Linked DNA regions of Homo sapiens: regions 2 and 3 are each linked to region 1. Evidence: fine-mapped expression QTL. A gene starts in region 1. Each other region holds a variant in brackets. All regions are shown on one strand. Distances are between the middles of the regions. Region 1 holds the start of UBXN6 (UBX domain protein 6). Region 2 overlaps SH3GL1 (SH3 domain containing GRB2 like 1, endophilin A2). Region 3 overlaps HDGFL2 (HDGF like 2).

Region 1 (2,752 bases):
TCTCCATCAGTCCCCACCACCCTCTGGCCAGCCAGCTCCCTGCAGCGGCCCCAGCTCTCCAGTTTCCCTTTTCTCAACCCAACAGCCCTCAGCCTTGCACCTTCCCTAGCTCCACTTCTTCCCCGGCCCTCCCAGCTGGCTCAGCCCTGCTCAGGCCCTTCTCTCCAAGTCCTCCCTAGACAATCCGGAAGCCTGCCCGGCATCTATCTCCTTTCCCCTCCTCTCCCACTTCCATAATCCACTTGGCACAGTGACGTGGCAGAGAAGCCTCGCAGAGAAGCTCTTTCTCCCAGCCTGCTAAGACGCGTCTGTCTCACCCGTCTTCTCCTCTCAGGCCCCTCCCGGGTAAGAGTCCATCTGTCAGAATCCCTCACCTCCACTCTCCTCACACACCTTCCTCAGCCCCTCCCTCTCAATTCGCCAGGACATCCCAGGTCACTGACGACGCTGCCCACCCCGGCCTCCCTGGCCTTCCAGACTCTTTCTAGTCTCCCATCAGCCTCCCACGTGCTCCAGATACCAAATCCAGAACCCCTCTTCCCATGGATACCTCAAAACAACTCTTCACCACCCCACCCCACAGCTGTGCGTCCTCCTCCAAGCTCAGCTCCCATCCATGGTCACCTAGATTGCCCCAAATCATCCCGGCCTCTTCGGCCAGCCGGGTCCCCAGACAGAGCTCTCCCTCACCACCCGGCTCAGGACTCATGATCCCGTTTTTCCCCAAAGGTCGTTCCACTGACCCCCAACTGCCTACAGCCCCGTCGCCCTAATCCCCCGCCACTGCATCGGACCCTCCTGCGGCCCCGCCCCCGAGACCTCCCCTCCCGCCCCGCCCCCTGCGCTAGTTCCCCTCCCCTCGCCTCCCCCGCCGCGCCCCCGGGTCATACCCGCCCCCTCCTGCCCCGCCCCCAGATCTCTCTCCCCTCCCCCTGACGCCCACCCTCGGCCCGACTTCGTCCGCCCCCGGCGCCTCTCCCCCTCCCCTGACCCTCGCGTGCCGCTCCCAGCCCCTCATCCTCTCCGATCTCCCGAGCCGCCCAAGGCCCCAGATCTCTCTCCCCGGCCGTCCCCGCCCCGCAGGGCCTCAAGCCCCTGCGTTCCTCACGCACCCCACGGACTCTTTGAGCTTCTGACCGGGTCCCGCGCTCTTGAACTTGATGTCGGCCTTGAACTCCTGAAAGAATTTCTTCATGGTGGCGGCTGGCCCGGCGGCGGGGGGCCGCGGGGGCGGGGGGGCACGGGGCCCAGTCGGGGACGGGGCCGCCGGAGACCAGCCACCGGAAGAAAATTAAAAAAAAAAAAAAAAAAAAAAAAAAAATTTACCTCGCCGCCGGAAGTCCCGCCTTCCCCTGGCCTGCCACGTGACAATCGACTAGACGTGCCTCTCTAGCGCTCGGTGCCTTGCTGGCCCAGGGCGGCCGCTCTGTACGCTGGAGCCGCGTCTCTGTGGTTCTTCCGGACTCCGTTGCCAGGGCGACGAGTGCACCTCTCGATTGGAGACAGGGCATTCCGTGGCGCTCCCCAAACGGTGACAAACGGTGATAGGACAGGGACAGGCCAACTGAACCTCGCAGAGAAAGCACTGGGCCCTATCCCTTTCGCTGCTCAACCTAAACTAGGCGCGGTGGCTCACGCCTGCAATCACAGCACTTTGGAGGCTCAAGCGGAAGGATTGCTTGATCCCAGAAGTTGGAGACCAGCCTGGCAACATGGCAAAACCTCGTCTCTATAAAAAAAAAAAAAATAAAATAAAATAAATTAGCCGAGGGTGGTGGCGCGCGCCTCTCAGCTACTTGGGAGGCAGAGGCGGGAGGATCGCTTGAACCCAAGAGGTCGAGGCTGCAGTGAGCTGTGATCAAGCCACTGCATTCCAGCCTGGGCGACAGAGAGAGACCCTGTCTCAAGCAAAACAAAAAAAATTCCAACCTTCTCTGTCTCCCCAGAGCTTACGTGATAAAATCCCAATTCAATGTTGGGTATTGGAGGCCCCCACGATCTGGCCTGTTTTGGTGCCTGAAGCACCCCCCCGCCACCATCACCACGTACCCTAGGTAGGAGCTGTTTAAGAGGATGCACCTGGGCCGGGCGCGGTGGCTCATGCCTGTAATCCCAGCACTTTGGGAGGCCGAAGCGGGCGGATCACAAGGTCAGGAGATCGAGACCATCCTGGCTAACACGGTGATACCCCGTCTCTACTAAAAATACAAAAAATTAGCCGGGCATGGTGGCAGGCGTCTGTACTCACAGCTACTCGGGAGGCTGAGGCAGGAGAATGGCGTGAACCCGCGAGGCGGAGCTTGCAGTGAGCCGAGATCTCACCACTGCACTCCAGCCTGGGCGACAGAGCGAGACTCCGTCTCAAAAAAAAAAAAAAAAAAAAAAAAAGAGGATGCACCCAATGCACCCAATTGGGACCTGGGGATTGGGGATCCACTTTGGTGGACACCAGTTAATAGTGGCGTACTTTGGTCTGTGCAATCCACAAAGAAGATACACAAAGTGACAGTTAAAACAAGCCTCAAAAAATGGGAGTTGGGGGTCAGACGTGGTGGCTCATGCCTCTAATCCCAGCACTTTGGGAGGCCGAGGCCGGCGGATCACTTGAGGTCAGGAGTTTGAGACCAGCCTGGCCAACATGGTGAAAGCCTGTCTCTATGGGCACCGGTAATCCCAGCTACTCGGGAGGCTGAGGCAGGAGAATCGCTTGAACCCGGCAGGTGGAGGTTGCAGTGAGCCGAGATCTCGCCAT
Region 2 (2,752 bases), 67 kb before region 1:
GGTGGCCCATCCGTCCTTCCATGTGATATTTACCGGCTCCCTGGGGCAGGCCAGCCAGTAAACCAAACACTGGGGATGCAGCAATGAGCACAAATGCCTGGCTCCGGCGGCAATGGGCTCATATTCCAGTGGCAACGGCAATGGAATAATCACTCCCATTGGCATGAAACCATGTGGGGAGCTGTCCACTTGGGGGCCAGGGCAGAGGAGACGCATGTTCCCGGCCCAGGGAGGGGAGTGGGCCCACTCACCCCATGCCCTCGCAGGCCTGATGCCATCTGGATTCTGAGTATCTGCCATGACCACCGCCCCTACAGACTGTGTCACACGCGGCATGACCCCTGCTGGGTGCTTCGTCCCCTTACCCAGGTGTGGAACTGCGGCCCGCTAGGCGGGAGCCCCCTCCCAGGCGGTCAGTGGGCCGCTGCTGAGTCAGGTCCAATGGAGGAAACTGTCCGTCTATCTTCCTGCTGTGGTGAGGAGGTCTCCCCGTGACCCTGCTCTCAGGGCCTGGTCAGCAGGTTTTTCTAGGAGTGGAGAGGAAAAGGAAGACAGGGCCGTCCTCCCAGAGCCTGAGTTCAGGGAGCCCTGGGTACTGCTTAACAGGAAATGAGCAGAAACGCACCAAGCTGCAGTGCTCAGGAAAAGTGCTTGCCAAATCCAGCCCTGCAAAAGGCGAGAGATAGAGAAAGAGAGAGACAGGCAGGCAGACAGACAGGAAGAAGGTGTGGAGAGGACAGACAGAGAGAGAGGAAGAAGAGGTGAGAGGGCAAAAGAAGGGAGAGACAGAGAGAAAGACAAGGGAAGAGTGAGAACAGAAAGAGAGGAAGAAGAGGGGGGAGAGATAGGGAGAGGAGGGGAGAGAAGGGAGAGAGGGAAACCCGCTGCAGCCCTGGCCACCACATTCTTTCATCCGCTTTCCAGGGACAGCTTCGAAAAAGAACCAGAAGAGACCGCCCCCTGACACTTCAGCTCACACATTAAAAAGCCATTAGAGTTGGAGAGCTCAGGTCCTGCTGAGATGCCTCCAGAGCCTGTTGAGCTCCTGACACCTACCCCACCCCCACCCCGGGGCAATGCTTCCCCTTCCAACCCTCCCGGCACTTAAAGACCTCAGGGGCTTGGAAAAGAGAAACATGGAGGCCGCTCTGAGCTTCTCCTCTAAGCTCTGCCCCGGGCAGCGCCGAAACCTGCGGCTGCCTCCGAAATCCTACTGGGGACGTTGGCAGCATGCTCCAAATTAAACACGACGTTTCCCCAGATCAGATCAGTTGCAAAACACTGGAAACAATCACGGAGGAGGAAAAGGGCTAAGGCAGCAGTGAAGGCTTGGCTGTACCCTAGGCCCCTGGATTAAAGTCCACTGGACACAGAGACACAGGCAGGTCTGAGCGGGACGGGCCTCAACCTGCAGGTTTCTCCTTTGAGGAAAAAATGCAACAGACACACACACAGACATCTGAGGGGCCCAGCTGCCAGCTCAGACCTCAGGTGCACTGCGCACGTGACAGCGGCCACCCCTGGGTGGCCAGGGG[T/C]GGGGTGAGCAGTGTCATGTTCTCTGTGTGCTTGATAGGTCTGGGGTGTCAAAATGTGACAGCCCCCAATTTCTTCAACTGAGCGGCATAAGGTGAGACACCTCATCTCGCACTCACAGGCTGTTATTAGGGGCACCTGGAATATAATTAAGTACTGCAGAGCTGGGCTTTAACACACACCCAGATAAGCAGGGCGATCAGCACCCACGGAGCCCCAACTGGTCTTTGGTGAACACGGGATTCTGAGTCAGAGACAAACTTTTAGCCGAACTTTCAGCCCTTGACTTGTTCTGGGACCTACTGTACAGCAGTCACGGGTGGCAGAAATCGGAGTCTGATGACCCCTTGGTCCTGGTTTGTTAAGAATGGGAAAACGTAGGATGCTGCTTGGTTACAAAGTGCCCAGTGACCACCAACAGCCAACCCTGTGAAGGGGGCCAGGTGAGCCAGGTTTCACAGACAGGCCCGGGGAGCCGTGGGGTGTAAGGAGCCTCTAGCTTCCTTTGGGGAAAGGCAGTCTCAAACTTCTGTGTCTGCACAGCCCAGCTGGCACACAGTTCAGGCCTCCACACAGCTGCTGGTTCCACCCGTCTGCAAGCCAGAAACAGAGTGAGCCCTGCCTGTCCTGGGGTGGCCCAGGGTCCACGCCGCCGGCTCCAATGCCGGCTCCAATGCCTCAAGGCACACACCAGTACATGCCGCACGTTCCTGGATTCAGTCACCAGAGCTTCCTGCAAGAACGGACTTAACTCCATTCCCATCATACGTGGACATCACAAAGCAAAGTCCCTTCCTACATCTGTTGCCAACACCTCCCCGAGGGAGAGGGGGCTTCCGGAGGTCAGCCTGCAGCTGCTGGACTCACCGGCCTTGTCCCGGGCACAGCCTCTGAATCACCAACGCCGGCCCTTACCAGCCCACACAAAAGTGCCTCTCAACTACCTGTCACTCCCAGCACAAGGGTATACACTTTTATCTGTGCCAAGGTGAAGGGGTTATGAACCCCATATTTTTGTATCTTAAGATTATTCCCACTGGCTCACGCCTGTAATCCCAGCACTTTGGGAGGCAAGGCAGGGAGATCACTAGGTCAGGAGTTCAACAACAGCCTGGCCAACATGATGAAACCCTGTGTCCACTAAAAATACAAAAATTGGCCAGCTGTGGTGGCGCACGCCTGTATTCCCAGCTACTCAGGAGGCTGAGGCAGGAGAATT
Region 3 (2,752 bases), 45 kb after region 1:
GTGAATGGCGAGGCCACATCACAGAAGGGGGAGAGCGCAGAGGACAAGGAGCACGAGGAGGGTCGGGACTCGGAGGAGGGGCCAAGGTGTGGCTCCTCTGAAGACCTGCACGAGTGAGTGTCCCGGGCCGTGGGGTTTGGACTCCTGAGCGGCAGCGGTGTGACGCGCACCCTGGGTCCGAGCCGCTCCTCCTGTGCCAGTCCCTCTGGGATGGGTCCCAGGGATGTCGTCCTTACTCGGGCCTCCCACCTTCACAGCTGACCCCAGGGCCCCGCTGGCTGGCACTTCCGGCGGCCCCTACAGAGAGGCAGCTCCAGGGCTTTGAGCTGCCTGCCCCTGGCCTCCTGGGAAGGTGGCTTCTTGCCGAGCCTCCAGGGTGGCCCAGGTAGGTAGGCCCCGAGCACGGGCACCCGGCTATCTGACGGTGCCTGTGCCCATCACTGTGGGCTGCTGTCTGGTACAAGGCTCAGTGGAGTCACTCACTTACCCAGCAGCTGCCTTGTGCTATGCCTGGCTGGCGCCAGCGTGGGGACCCTGGAGATGGTTGTGGTCTCTAGTGGCAGAAGACAGGCAGATAGGAGGGCGGCACTCGAGCCTCAGGTGCCACAACGGGGGTACACTCCTCGGTGCCCATCCCACCCAACCGCCCTACAGGCAGGGCAGGGGCGGGAGGGCATCCTCACACCGCCTTTGCTGTTCCCACCAGCAGCGTACGGGAGGGTCCCGACCTGGACAGGCCTGGGAGCGACCGGCAGGAGCGCGAGAGGGCACGGGGGGACTCGGAGGCCCTGGACGAGGAGAGCTGAGCCGCGGGCAGCCAGGCCCAGCCCCCGCCCGAGCTCAGGCTGCCCCTCTCCTTCCCCGGCTCGCAGGAGAGCAGAGCAGAGAACTGTGGGGAACGCTGTGCTGTTTGTATTTGTTCCCTTGGGTTTTTTTTTCCTGCCTAATTTCTGTGATTTCCAACCAACATGAAATGACTATAAA[T/C]GGTTTTTTAATGAAAAAAGAAATCACTTTTATTGGCTTGGTTTTCTAGCATTGCTGGTGCAGTGGGGGCCTGAGCTGGGGCGCAGGCGGCAGTGTCACTGGGCCCGTTTGGGACTGGGTTGAGCCATCAGGCCACCGTGAGAAGCGACTAAAAGGCACTCTGGGCCCAGCCCAACCCTGAAAGGCCAGTGGCAGGAGAGCTGGGCGGGAGCAAGCTCTTCCCAGGAGACAAGAGGGACAAACCAGGGCATCTAAGCTGTGCTGCCTGCGCCCTGCCCCGCACCCACGAGGCTGGGGGGTTTGATGCTTCCTGCATCTGGCAGCCCAGGGTCCAGGCAGGTGAGCAGGTCCGATGTGGGGAGGACGAGGGTCCGCGAGGCTAGGCTGGGAGGGTGGAGACCAGGCCTTCCCTGAGAGCCGCTGCTAGCCGACAGTGGTCTCCAGCGTTCAGGGAGCATGGGCCTCAGGGGCCAGCCTCGACTCACCCCAGCTGTGTCACCCACACACCGTGTGACTTTGGACAGGTTCCCCTCCCACTCGGGGCTTCTCTTTCCTCCTCTGCATAAGGGGCTGTCACGTGGGCACGGTCCCAAGCAAGTCACCCCGTGCTCCGAAGTTGCTCATTCCACAGTGGCGTCTCGTGTTTGTCGTCCTGCCCAGCGTAGCCGAGTTGCCTCCGTCCCAGTAAGAATTAGGCTGTGGTGTGGCGGGAAGGGACTTCCTGAGCTGCGGCCCCATGCTTGGTTGGCTGGACGTGAGCTGCAGTCACTGTGCCTGATTTCTGCAAATGGCTGTGTCTGGCATCCTAGCCTCCGATGGCCATGGGTGTCGGGCTGAGGAGAAGGCTTGGGAAGGCTCCTGACCCGTCCCCTCTCACGGCCCGTCACCTGAGGCAGTCCTTGCCGTGCCAGCTTCCCCGGTTCAGAGCTGAGCTGAATGCCCCGGCCCCTCACGGCCCCTGGTGCACACGGTGACCCCTGGGGCCCCTCCACCCTTCCTCCCCCTGGGTCTGGGGTTCCTGGGCTCGTGTCCTAGGAGAGCATGGAAAGGGGACGACAAGGTTCTCTTACCGGGTGAGTGGGGATATGGCTTCCTGGGGAGGCCGGGCTGAACGGCTCCTCCCCGCTGGACTGAGCGCAGCCACGGCACGTCTCACACCCGACCTGAGCCTGCCAGCCTCCACGACCTGGGCTAGCCTGAGAGCACGGGGCCCGGCGGCCGGGTCCGCCACCACCAGTGTCTCTGATGCCTGCAGCCTCCCCAGCCCCGCTTCCTCTGCAGCCCGGCGCTTGGGTGGGCCTGAGGACCCAGGGGGAGTGTGCGGCGGAGGAAGGGCTGTGCCATAGGCACGCAGCCTCTGTGGCTGTTCCCAGCCCTGTCTGATCCCTCCATAGGGCACAGTTCCCTGCGGGGAAGTCCTTTGTCTGTGTTCTCCAGGGGCAGCTGCTGGGCCCAGCCTCCCCAGGGGCCTCAGAGCCCCAGGTGCCTGGGGCAGGCCTGTGGTGGGCAGCTGGAGGCAGCAGCAGCCTGTTTGCTTGTTTTTTGCACCCCCCACCCCCTGCAAACTGCTCAGTCTCAAGCCAGGCTGGTGCAAAGCCCCAGCTGTGGCTGCTGTGGCTCCTGGCAGCTTTGTCCCCACCGTGAGGCCACCCCGGGGGTCAGCAAAGGCAGTAGCAGCCTGCCTTGGGATGATGATGGCAGTGTCGCTTTTTCTAGTACTTTCTACTATGAGGGAATGTGGTTCTTAAGACCCTCAAGGTGTGTGTGC

What was found. PIP is the estimated chance that this variant, and not a neighbour inherited with it, causes the effect.
Region 2: its variant is the best candidate, but not a certain one, in a credible set for the expression of UBXN6 in whole blood (INTERVAL, PIP 0.79).
Region 3: its variant is the best candidate, but not a certain one, in a credible set for the expression of UBXN6 in whole blood (INTERVAL, PIP 0.74).

Annotation. Positions count from the first base shown.
Region 1 is chr19:4,456,503-4,459,254 of GRCh38, forward strand. It overlaps UBXN6 (UBX domain protein 6), which reads right to left and starts at 1,292. Exons shown (of 11, transcript NM_025241.3): 1 at 1,113-1,292. The coding sequence starts at 1,195. RefSeq lists silencers at 1,094-1,163, 1,194-1,243 and an enhancer at 1,354-1,553.
Region 2 is chr19:4,389,687-4,392,438 of GRCh38, forward strand. The region is part of intron 1 of SH3GL1 (SH3 domain containing GRB2 like 1, endophilin A2); the gene reads right to left. Among named protein-coding and RNA genes, the nearest start is that of SH3GL1, 9.5 kb to the right of the region's middle. RefSeq lists enhancers at 1-325, 326-932, 933-1,541. The variant T/C (reference allele first, on the strand shown) is at 1,536.
Region 3 is chr19:4,501,205-4,503,956 of GRCh38, forward strand. It overlaps HDGFL2 (HDGF like 2), which reads left to right. Exons shown (of 16, transcript NM_001001520.3): 15 at 1-113; 16 at 707-1,003. The coding sequence ends at 806. It overlaps PLIN4 (perilipin 4), which reads right to left. Exons shown (of 8, transcript NM_001367868.2): 8 at 988-2,752. Among named protein-coding and RNA genes, the nearest start is that of PLIN4, 16 kb to the right of the region's middle. The variant T/C (reference allele first, on the strand shown) is at 985.